Regions from separate parts of the Homo sapiens genome. Here all the other regions are linked to region 2. The links come from fine-mapping of genetic effects on gene expression. A gene starts in region 2. Each other region holds a variant in brackets. All regions are shown on one strand. Distances are between the middles of the regions.

Region 1 (2,762 bases), 57 kb after region 2:
AGGTGTCACAGATTTTGGAACTGAGAATAACTATGATTAATATGTTAAGGGCTCTCATGGAAAAAGTAGATTACATGCAAGAACAGATGCATAATGTATGCAGAGAGATGGAAACTCTAAGAAGCAATAAAGGGAAGTGCTAGAAATTTAAAAAATAACACCGTAACAGAAATGAGGAATGTCAGTGGACTGGACAAAATCAGTGAGCCTGCAGATATGTTAACTGAAACTTCCACATTGAAATACAAAGAGAAAAAATAATGAAAAAATAAAACAAGAAAACCTGAATGGAATGTCCAAGAACTGTGGGACAATATGAAAAAGTATAACATACATGTTTTGGAAAACCAGAAGAATAGAGAACAGAAGAAATATTTGAATAATGACTACAAATTTTCCCAAAATTAATGACAGACATCAAATCACATCCAGTGTCTTAGTCATTTTTGTGCAGCTATAAAAGAATATCTGAGATTGTTTAATTTATACTGGATATACATTTATTTCTCACAGTTTTAGAGGCTGGGACGTTCAAGATCAAAGAGCTGGCAACTGGCAAGGGCCTTCTTGTTATGTTATCCCATGGCAGAAGGTGGGAGGACAAGAGAGGATGAGAGACAGAGAGAATGCAAGAGAAACCCAGACTCCTCTTTTTATAAGGAATTCACTCTGGTGATAACAAACCCATTCCCCAGATAATGGCCCTGCCCTCGTGACCTAACCACCTCTTAAAAGTTAAAGTCCCACCTCCCAACACTGCCACATTGGGGATCAAGTTTCCAATACATGAATTTTGGGGGACCCATTCAAACCATTGTATCCAGAATCCTCAGAGAGTACTAAGCAGGATAAATATTATAAAACTATATTTTAGCATATCATATTCAAATTGCAGAAAATTAAAGATAAAAATCTTTTTTTTTTTTGAGACGGAGTCTCCCTCTGTCGCCCAGGCTGGAGTGCAGTGGCACGATCTCGGCTCACTGCAAGCTCCGCCTCCTGGGTTCACGCCATTCTCCTCCCTCAGCCTCCCGAGTAGCTGGGACTACAGGCGCCCGCTACCACGCCCGGCTACTTTTTTTGCATTTTTAGTAGAGACGGGGTTTCACCGTGTTAGCCAGGATGGTCTCGATCTCGTGACCTTGTGATCCGCCCGCCTCAGCCTCCCAAAGTGCTGGGATTACAGGCGTGAGCCACCGCGCCCGGCCCAAAGATAAAATCTTGAAAGAAGCCAGGAAAAAACACCTTACCCATAGAGCAACAAGCATAAGAATTACATTGGTCTTCTCATCAGAAACCATGAAAATATATAGAGAGTGGAATGAAATATTTAAAGTGTTGACAGAAAAAACCCACCAACTTAGAATTATCTACATCCAGTGAAATTATCTTGCAAAAGTGAAGGAGAAAGAGACTTTTTCAAAAAAC[A/G]AAAACTGAGGGAATTTATTGCCAGCAGACCTGCCTTGCAAAAACTGTTAAAAGAAGTTCCTCAGTGAAAAGGAAAATGATATAGGTCAGAAACTCTCATGCATATCAAGAAAGGAAGAGAATCAGAGAAGGAATAAAAATAACCTTTTACTTTTCTTATTAACTGATCTAATATATGACCATTCAAAATAATAATAGCAAGAAGGAATTGCATGATTATAGCATGGAAATGTGAAATCAATGAAAGCCGTTTCTTTGCTTTAGAAAGCAGTAGAAAGGAGTTGCAAATACTGTTTTTTTGTTTGTTTGTTTTTGTTTTTTGTTTTTTAGACAGAGTCTCACTCTGTCATCCAGGCTGGAGTACAACGGTGCAATCCCAACTTGGGATGCCTCCCGAGTAGCAGGGATTACAGGTGCCTGGCACCGTGCCTGGCTAATTTTTGTATTTTAGTAGAGACGAGGTTTCACTATGTCAGCCAGGCTGGTCTTGAACTCCTGACCTCACATGATCTGCTCACCTTGACGTCCCAAAGTGCTGGGATTATAAGCATGGGCCACCGTGCCTGGCCAGCAAATACTGTTATAAAGTATCTGTACTATCCATGAAGGACCTGTACTACTCATGAAGCAGTATGGTGTTATTTGAAAGTGGACTTGGTTATGAATGTATATTGCAATTTTTTTTTTTTTTTTCTGAGATGGAGTCTCGCTCTGTTGCCCAGGCTGGAGTGTAGTGGCACAATCTCGGCTCATTGCAACCTCCGCCTCCCAGGTTCAAGCAATTCTCCTGCCTCAGCCTCTTAAGTAGCTGGGACTACAGGCACCCGCCACCATGCCTGGCTAATTTTTGTATTTTTGGTAGAGACGGGGTTTCACCATGTTGGCCAGGCTGGTCTCAAATTCCTGACCTCAGGTGATCCACCTGCTTTGGCCTCCCAAAGTGGTGGGATTACAGGCGTGAGCCACCGTGCCTGGCCAGCAATTTTTTTTTTTTTTTTTTTTGAGACTGAGTCTCGCTCTGTTGCCCAGTCTGGAGTGCAGTGGCGCTATGTCAGCTCACTGCAAGCTCTGCCTCCCAGGTTCCCGCCATTCTCCTGCCTCAGCCTCCCAAGTAGCTGGGACCACAGGCACCTGCCACCACGCCTGGCTAATTTTTTGTATTTTTAGTAGAGACGAGGTTTCACCATGTTAGCCAGGATGGTCTTGATCTCCTGACCTCGTGATCCACCCGCCTCGGCCTCCCAAAGTGCTGGGATTACAGGCGTGAGCCACCATGCCCAGCCAGCAATTTTTTAAAGTAGTGAAAAATTCACATGGTAAGAGAGGAGAGAAAA
Region 2 (2,762 bases):
AGATAATGCTGGATTCTCGTTCCCCACAGTACCAAAGATGCCACACAGAGTATTCTTGCTCAAAAGAGCGAAGCAATTAATCTAGAGGAAGAGATAACGATGTCGAACGCTGGTAAATCAAAAAAATTAGGAGAGAGGAGTGGAAAAGGAGAAGACGCGGCGGCGCTGTGCGGTCTCGGAGCAGCTCTCCAGGAAAGGGTTCTTGGGCAGCGGCCCCCCTGCTCGGGTGAGCGGCCAGGCTGGAGGTGGCCGCCACGGGCGCGTTTTCCACTCCGACCGGCTCCCGCGCACACGCCCACCGCCCTGCGCAGCCCGCGACCCCGGCGCCCGCAGCGCACCCAAGTCACGCTCAACCCGAGCGGAAAGTTTCGAATCCAAACCCGAGAGCCGAAACGCACAGGTCTCGGGGCTGAACTCGCGCCAGGAACACGCCCGAGGCAAACCACTTGACAACCAGCTTAGGTTCTCAGCAGAAAGGCCGACAGGCGGGGGCCGGGGAGGAAGGGGAGGCGAGACACACGCCCTCCCGCACACTCGGCCCCTCCGCCTCCTCGGCCCGCGGCTCAGGTGGGAGCAACGCAGCCGCTGCACTCCCGCAGCGGGCGGGCCGGAGCCCAGCGGCAGACGCCGGGGCCCCTTCCGGAAAGGGCCGCGACCCCCGGGCCAGCTCGCGGGCAAGGGACGGGTGCGCACGCCCTGCCCGGCGCCTTTCCGCCGGCCTCCCGCCCGCCGGCCGGTGGCGACCCGGGGCGGGAGGTCGCGGGGTCGAGGCTCCGTGATGCTAGGGAACCGGCCGCGGCCCGCGCGCCCCTCCCCCGCCGCCGCCCCTCCCCCCGGGCCGCCCGCCGGGGGCAGGAGCCGAGCGCCAGCGTCCCGGGGGACCAGCCCGCCCGCCGGCCCGGGGACCCGGACAACTTTCCCCTGCGCGGCCGCGGGCGCCCCCGACGGGGCGGGGGTGGGGAACGGGGACAGGCGCAGCGTGGACTCACTTTTTCGGATGTTTCTCTCTTTTCGGCCTCCGCTTTCGGGCCTGAATGGCCAGCACTGGGGAAGAGAAGACACACATTAACGGTCGGGCCGCCCGCCCGGGCTGGCCGCGTGGCGGGGAGAGGGCGCGCCGCGGGCCACTCACCTTTCCGGGAGCTCATTCCGACGCGGCGGAAGCGGGGCGGGGGGCTTCGCGACGGCGACGCGGGCGCCGAGACGAGCTGGGCTGCAGCCTCCACTCGCTCCGCCGGCCGGGAGGAGACGAGAACCGCGCCTGCGCCGCCGCCGCCGCCGCCGCTCCAGCAGGGACCCAGCAAGACCCGCCCCCGTCCGGCCCCGCCCCCGCCCCGCCCCCACCCGCCGGCCCCGGGGGTCGGGACCCCAGCGCCGCGCGCCCAGCGCCCCGCGCCCCCGCCCCACCCACCTGTGCAGAAGTGGCCGCCGCCCATGGCCGCGCTGGCCCTCGGCCTCCCCCACCCCAGCCCGCGGCCCGGGCCTCCGCCTCCTGCGATCCTGCGGCTGGCCCAGGCCGCCCGCCTCTCCCGGGCACCGGACCCGCGGGACCCTCCCTCCCCGCCGCGGCCTCTCCCCTCCGCACCCCGGCCGGTCGCGCCGCCCGCTGCTCCATGCGCCCGTCCTTGGCCGGCGCCTCCGCGGGTCTCGCACCACCTCTCTTCCCGCGGCCTCTTCTCTCCCTTTGCTCCTCTACATCCTTGCAACCCCATGAGCGCCGCTTCCTCCTCTCCGGCAGGCGTGGAAAGGGCACACGACCAAAAGCTGGGAAACCTGGGTCCGCGATTAGCGGTGTGACCTTGGAGAAGTCATTTTCTCTCCCACCTCTAAGTGCCCTCCAGGATTGCATGAGTTTAATGAAGGAAAAGATACAGATAGCATTCAAGGTAGGACAAAGGTTTTGCACATGAATTGAAACTCGCTTCCGTAAACACCAGGTGTATAACAATTCAAAACAACAATCACACCAAGTAGTTATTTTCTGCATCCTACAATGAGGAAACTGAGTCCCAACGAGGTTAAAAAGTTTAACCAGCCAGGATCGAAATTCAGGCCTGGCCGTCGACAAACCACCTTATCAGGCTGCCTACAAAAGATGTGAATCAAGTTGATAGTGACACAAAAAGATAACTGCAATGTTCTCTTATTTATGTAAATAATTACAATAGTTTTTGAAAGATACGCATTCTGACTATTAACTCCCTCATTGGTCACACAACTGTATCTTTGACAAGGTGGCTTACACTAAGGATGATAAATCAGAACGGGAAACTCTGCTTGGATTTTGAAGAGTCCTTAACTTTTTATATTCAAAAAAATATCAAACCCTATAGAAAAGTTACAAGGAAAATACAATTAACAGCCAAATTAACCCATATTCACCAATTTTTAACATTCTGCCACATTTGCTATCTATGTGTCTGTGTGTATGGTTTATTTTGCTGAATCACTTGAGTTTTTGTAGACACTGTTACCCTTTATCCCTAAATATTTCAGTACATATCTACTAAGAATAAAGATAATCTCCCACATAATCAGAATTCCATGATCACTCCAAGAAACTTTCATACTAATACAATGTAATCATCTGTAACATACAGGCCATATATATTCAATTTTGCAAAATATCCCAGTAATATCCCTTGTCGCTGATTTTCTTTTTTTCCCAATTAGTCTACCATTAAGGATCATCCGTTGCATTTAATTGTCATGTCTTTTTAAACACCTTTAGTCTAGAATCATTCTTGGTTTTGTGTTTTGGT
Region 3 (2,762 bases), 350 kb before region 2:
AACTTCTGACCTCAGGTGATCCACCCACCTTGGCCTCCCAAAGTGCTGGGATTACAGATGTGAGCCACCACACCCGGCCATAAACACAAATTTTAGTCTTTGAGACTGTATTTGCCCACGTTTGTGGTGTTTTAATGCATTGTTACAGATTAAATGTAAGTTTGTTAACTGGATCAGGTTTGAGGGAGGAGCAAGGTCGGTTTTGTTAGTGCAGTTTCATTTAATAATCAGAGGAAACGCAATTCAGATGTTCTGGAGTGAGATACTTAAGTATTTAATTTCCCTTTTTGAGAGAGGCAGCTGTCAATTTTTTCTTCCTTAATTATAAATTCTAGATTATTTATTTTACCTATCATCTGGCAGGGTTTTTTGTTGTTGTTGTTGTTGTTCTTTTGGTTTTTTTTTTTGTTTTTTTTTTTGGCAGAGTCTGTCACCCAGGCTGGAGTGCAGTGGAGCAATCTTGGCTCACTGCAACCTCTGTCTCCTGGGTTCAAGCGATTCTCGTGCCTCAGCCTCCCAAGTAGATGGGATTACAGGTGTATCCACACCCAGCTAATTTTTGTATTTTTAGTAGGGACACGGTTACACCATGTTGGCCAGGCTGGTCTTGAATTCCTTACCTCAGGTGACCCACCCGCCTAGGCCTCCCAAAGTGCTGGGATTACAAGTGTGAGCCACAGCTCTCAGCCATCTGGCAGTTTTTAATTTCAGGCATACTGATGTGTAGGCTCTGGAATCAGACCACAAGGGTTCAGATCTTGATTTGGCTATTTATTAGTTATGAACTTTGGACAAGTTTAACCTCTCTACCTCATTGTAAAATGGGGATAATAAATGCACCTATACCATAGGCTTATTGTGGAGATTAAGCATTGTAAGCACTCAGAATTTGCTATCATTATTATTATAACCACTAGTTGGGGAAGTTTGAGTATCAGATAAGTGCTTCTAGAGCACTATCTGGTAGTAATGCTAGCTCAGTTGTAGAAATGCATATTCATTTTGTTATCACATTTATATTTTATAGTTTTTTAGAATCTAAAATTCTGTCATTTTGATTATTTGGAATAATCTGTTAATGTAATTGTAAGATCATCAGCCTAATCAACTTCCATTTATAGTTGAAAGTCAGAGCAGTGAAATGACTTGCCCAAGCATTCGTAGGTAGTAACTTGGAATGGATCTGATTGACTAGTATTCTTTTCATTTTACCTTAGTCAGCTGCTGTAAATTAAATGTTAAATGACTAATAAGGGCTGTTTAATTTCCAGTCTCAGTTACATGTCTCCTCAAAATTTCTTTCAAGTTTCTTTAATTATTTCCATTAGTAATTAAGCCAAAAATTTACCTAGTCTCTTAGTGATACACATCCAAAATATATACATTAATTTAAAATATTTATTGAGCACTGTGCCAGGTGCTTATAAAGGACAGAAATATAATAAATGGCTCTTTCCTCAAAGAGATTGTTATATTGGGCTCTTTTATTTGTAATTTTAGAAAAATATTTTT[A/C]CTCATATTTTTTATTCTTTCTGCCTTTTGGGTATCATATTAATCTTTAAAGTGTTACTTTTTGTTTTCTTTTTTTTGTTGTTTTTTTTAAGACAGGGTCTCCCTCTGTCAGCCAGGCTGGAGTGCAGTTGTGCAATCGTGGCTCACTGCAGCCTTGACCTCTTGGGCTCAAACAATCCTCCCATCTCAGCCTCCCAAGTAACTGGGACTACAGGTGTGCATCACCACATCCAGCTAGTTTTTGTATTTTTTGTAGGGATAATGTCTCACTATGTTGCCCAGGCTGTTCCTGAACTCCTGGGCTCAAGTAGTCTGCCTGCCTCAGCTGCTCAAAGTGCTGGGATTACAGGTGTGAGCCACTGTGCCCAGCTGTTTTCTGTTTATTTTAACACGGTCTTAAAGGCAGCTTCAGTCTTCCAGTTTTTCTGATAAACTGTTTTCTACTTTAATTGCTTTTTTTGCCTTTTACTTCATTTTTCCTACTTGAGAGTCTTGTTTGTTTTTATTGTTTTTGTTTTGGTATTGTTGCCTTTGCTAAATCTGTTTTTAATATTGTATTAAAATTTATTTTTCAGTTAAACATTTTTAAATATTAAATTTAATATTGTATCCCAGTGTTTCTTTTTCCAGTTTGATTTAGTATTTAGCTTTGATTGTTGCCTTTACTTGTGTTTACATTCATTTGTGTAAAAAGGGAAGAGTAAATTTATCCTTTTAAGAATTGGCTGCTTTGTGTGAGTCACTTTGGTTTTAGGTACCATGTCAGTTAGAAGTAATTATAATTTTATGCCATTTAAAAATAGCTCAAAACTCCTATGTTCACTTGGTTTCTAGGTCTATTCTGGATAAGCAGGTTTTGTGAAGACATTTATTCTTTCTTGGACCTCAGATTTACCAGACATCTCATGGTATTTCCTTTTCTATTATTTCTTTAATGGCTGCCATTTATTCTCAATGTATTTTGTACATATTTTACTTGTCAGCTGGATGACCAGTTTTTTGATTCACACATAAGATGTGAAACATTGTGTTAATTGTTAAGGTTGTGTTAAAAACCTTTTCCCTTTATTTATAACTTTTTTTTTTTTTTGAGACGGAGTCTCGCTCTGTCACCAGGCTGGAGTGCAGTGGCGCGATCGCAGCTCACTGCAGCCTCTGACTCCCTAGTTCAAGCGATTCTCCTGCCTCAGCGTCCTGAGTAGCTGGGATTACAGGCACATGCCACCAAGCCCAGGTAATTTTTGTATTTT

Alleles and levels. Alleles are on the strand shown, and positions count from the first base shown. SD is a standard deviation of normalised expression in the study named. Not every link is listed here.
In carriers of allele C in region 3, the expression in gastroesophageal junction of the gene that starts at base 1,263 in region 2 tends to be higher than with A alone (small effect, 0.28 SD a copy in GTEx).

What was found. PIP is the estimated chance that this variant, and not a neighbour inherited with it, causes the effect.
Region 1: its variant is fine-mapped to the expression of SRPK2 in whole blood (INTERVAL, PIP 0.93).
Region 3: its variant is fine-mapped to the expression of SRPK2 in gastroesophageal junction (GTEx, PIP 0.98).

What each region holds. Positions count from the first base shown.
Region 1 is chr7:105,444,756-105,447,517 of GRCh38, forward strand. No RefSeq gene overlaps it. Among named protein-coding and RNA genes, the nearest start is that of SRPK2, 57 kb to the left of the region's middle. The variant A/G (reference allele first, on the strand shown) is at 1,429.
Region 2 is chr7:105,387,659-105,390,420 of GRCh38, forward strand. SRPK2 (SRSF protein kinase 2) reads right to left here and starts at 1,263. Exons shown (of 16, transcript NM_182692.3): 1 at 1,133-1,263; 2 at 990-1,044. The coding sequence starts at 1,148. RefSeq lists silencers at 414-513, 614-733, 1,074-1,203, 1,234-1,303, 1,314-1,363 and 1 more.
Region 3 is chr7:105,035,780-105,038,541 of GRCh38, forward strand. It overlaps KMT2E (lysine methyltransferase 2E (inactive)), which reads left to right. Exons shown (of 27, transcript NM_182931.3): 2 at 2,347-2,420. Among named protein-coding and RNA genes, the nearest start is that of KMT2E, 23 kb to the left of the region's middle. The variant A/C (reference allele first, on the strand shown) is at 1,513.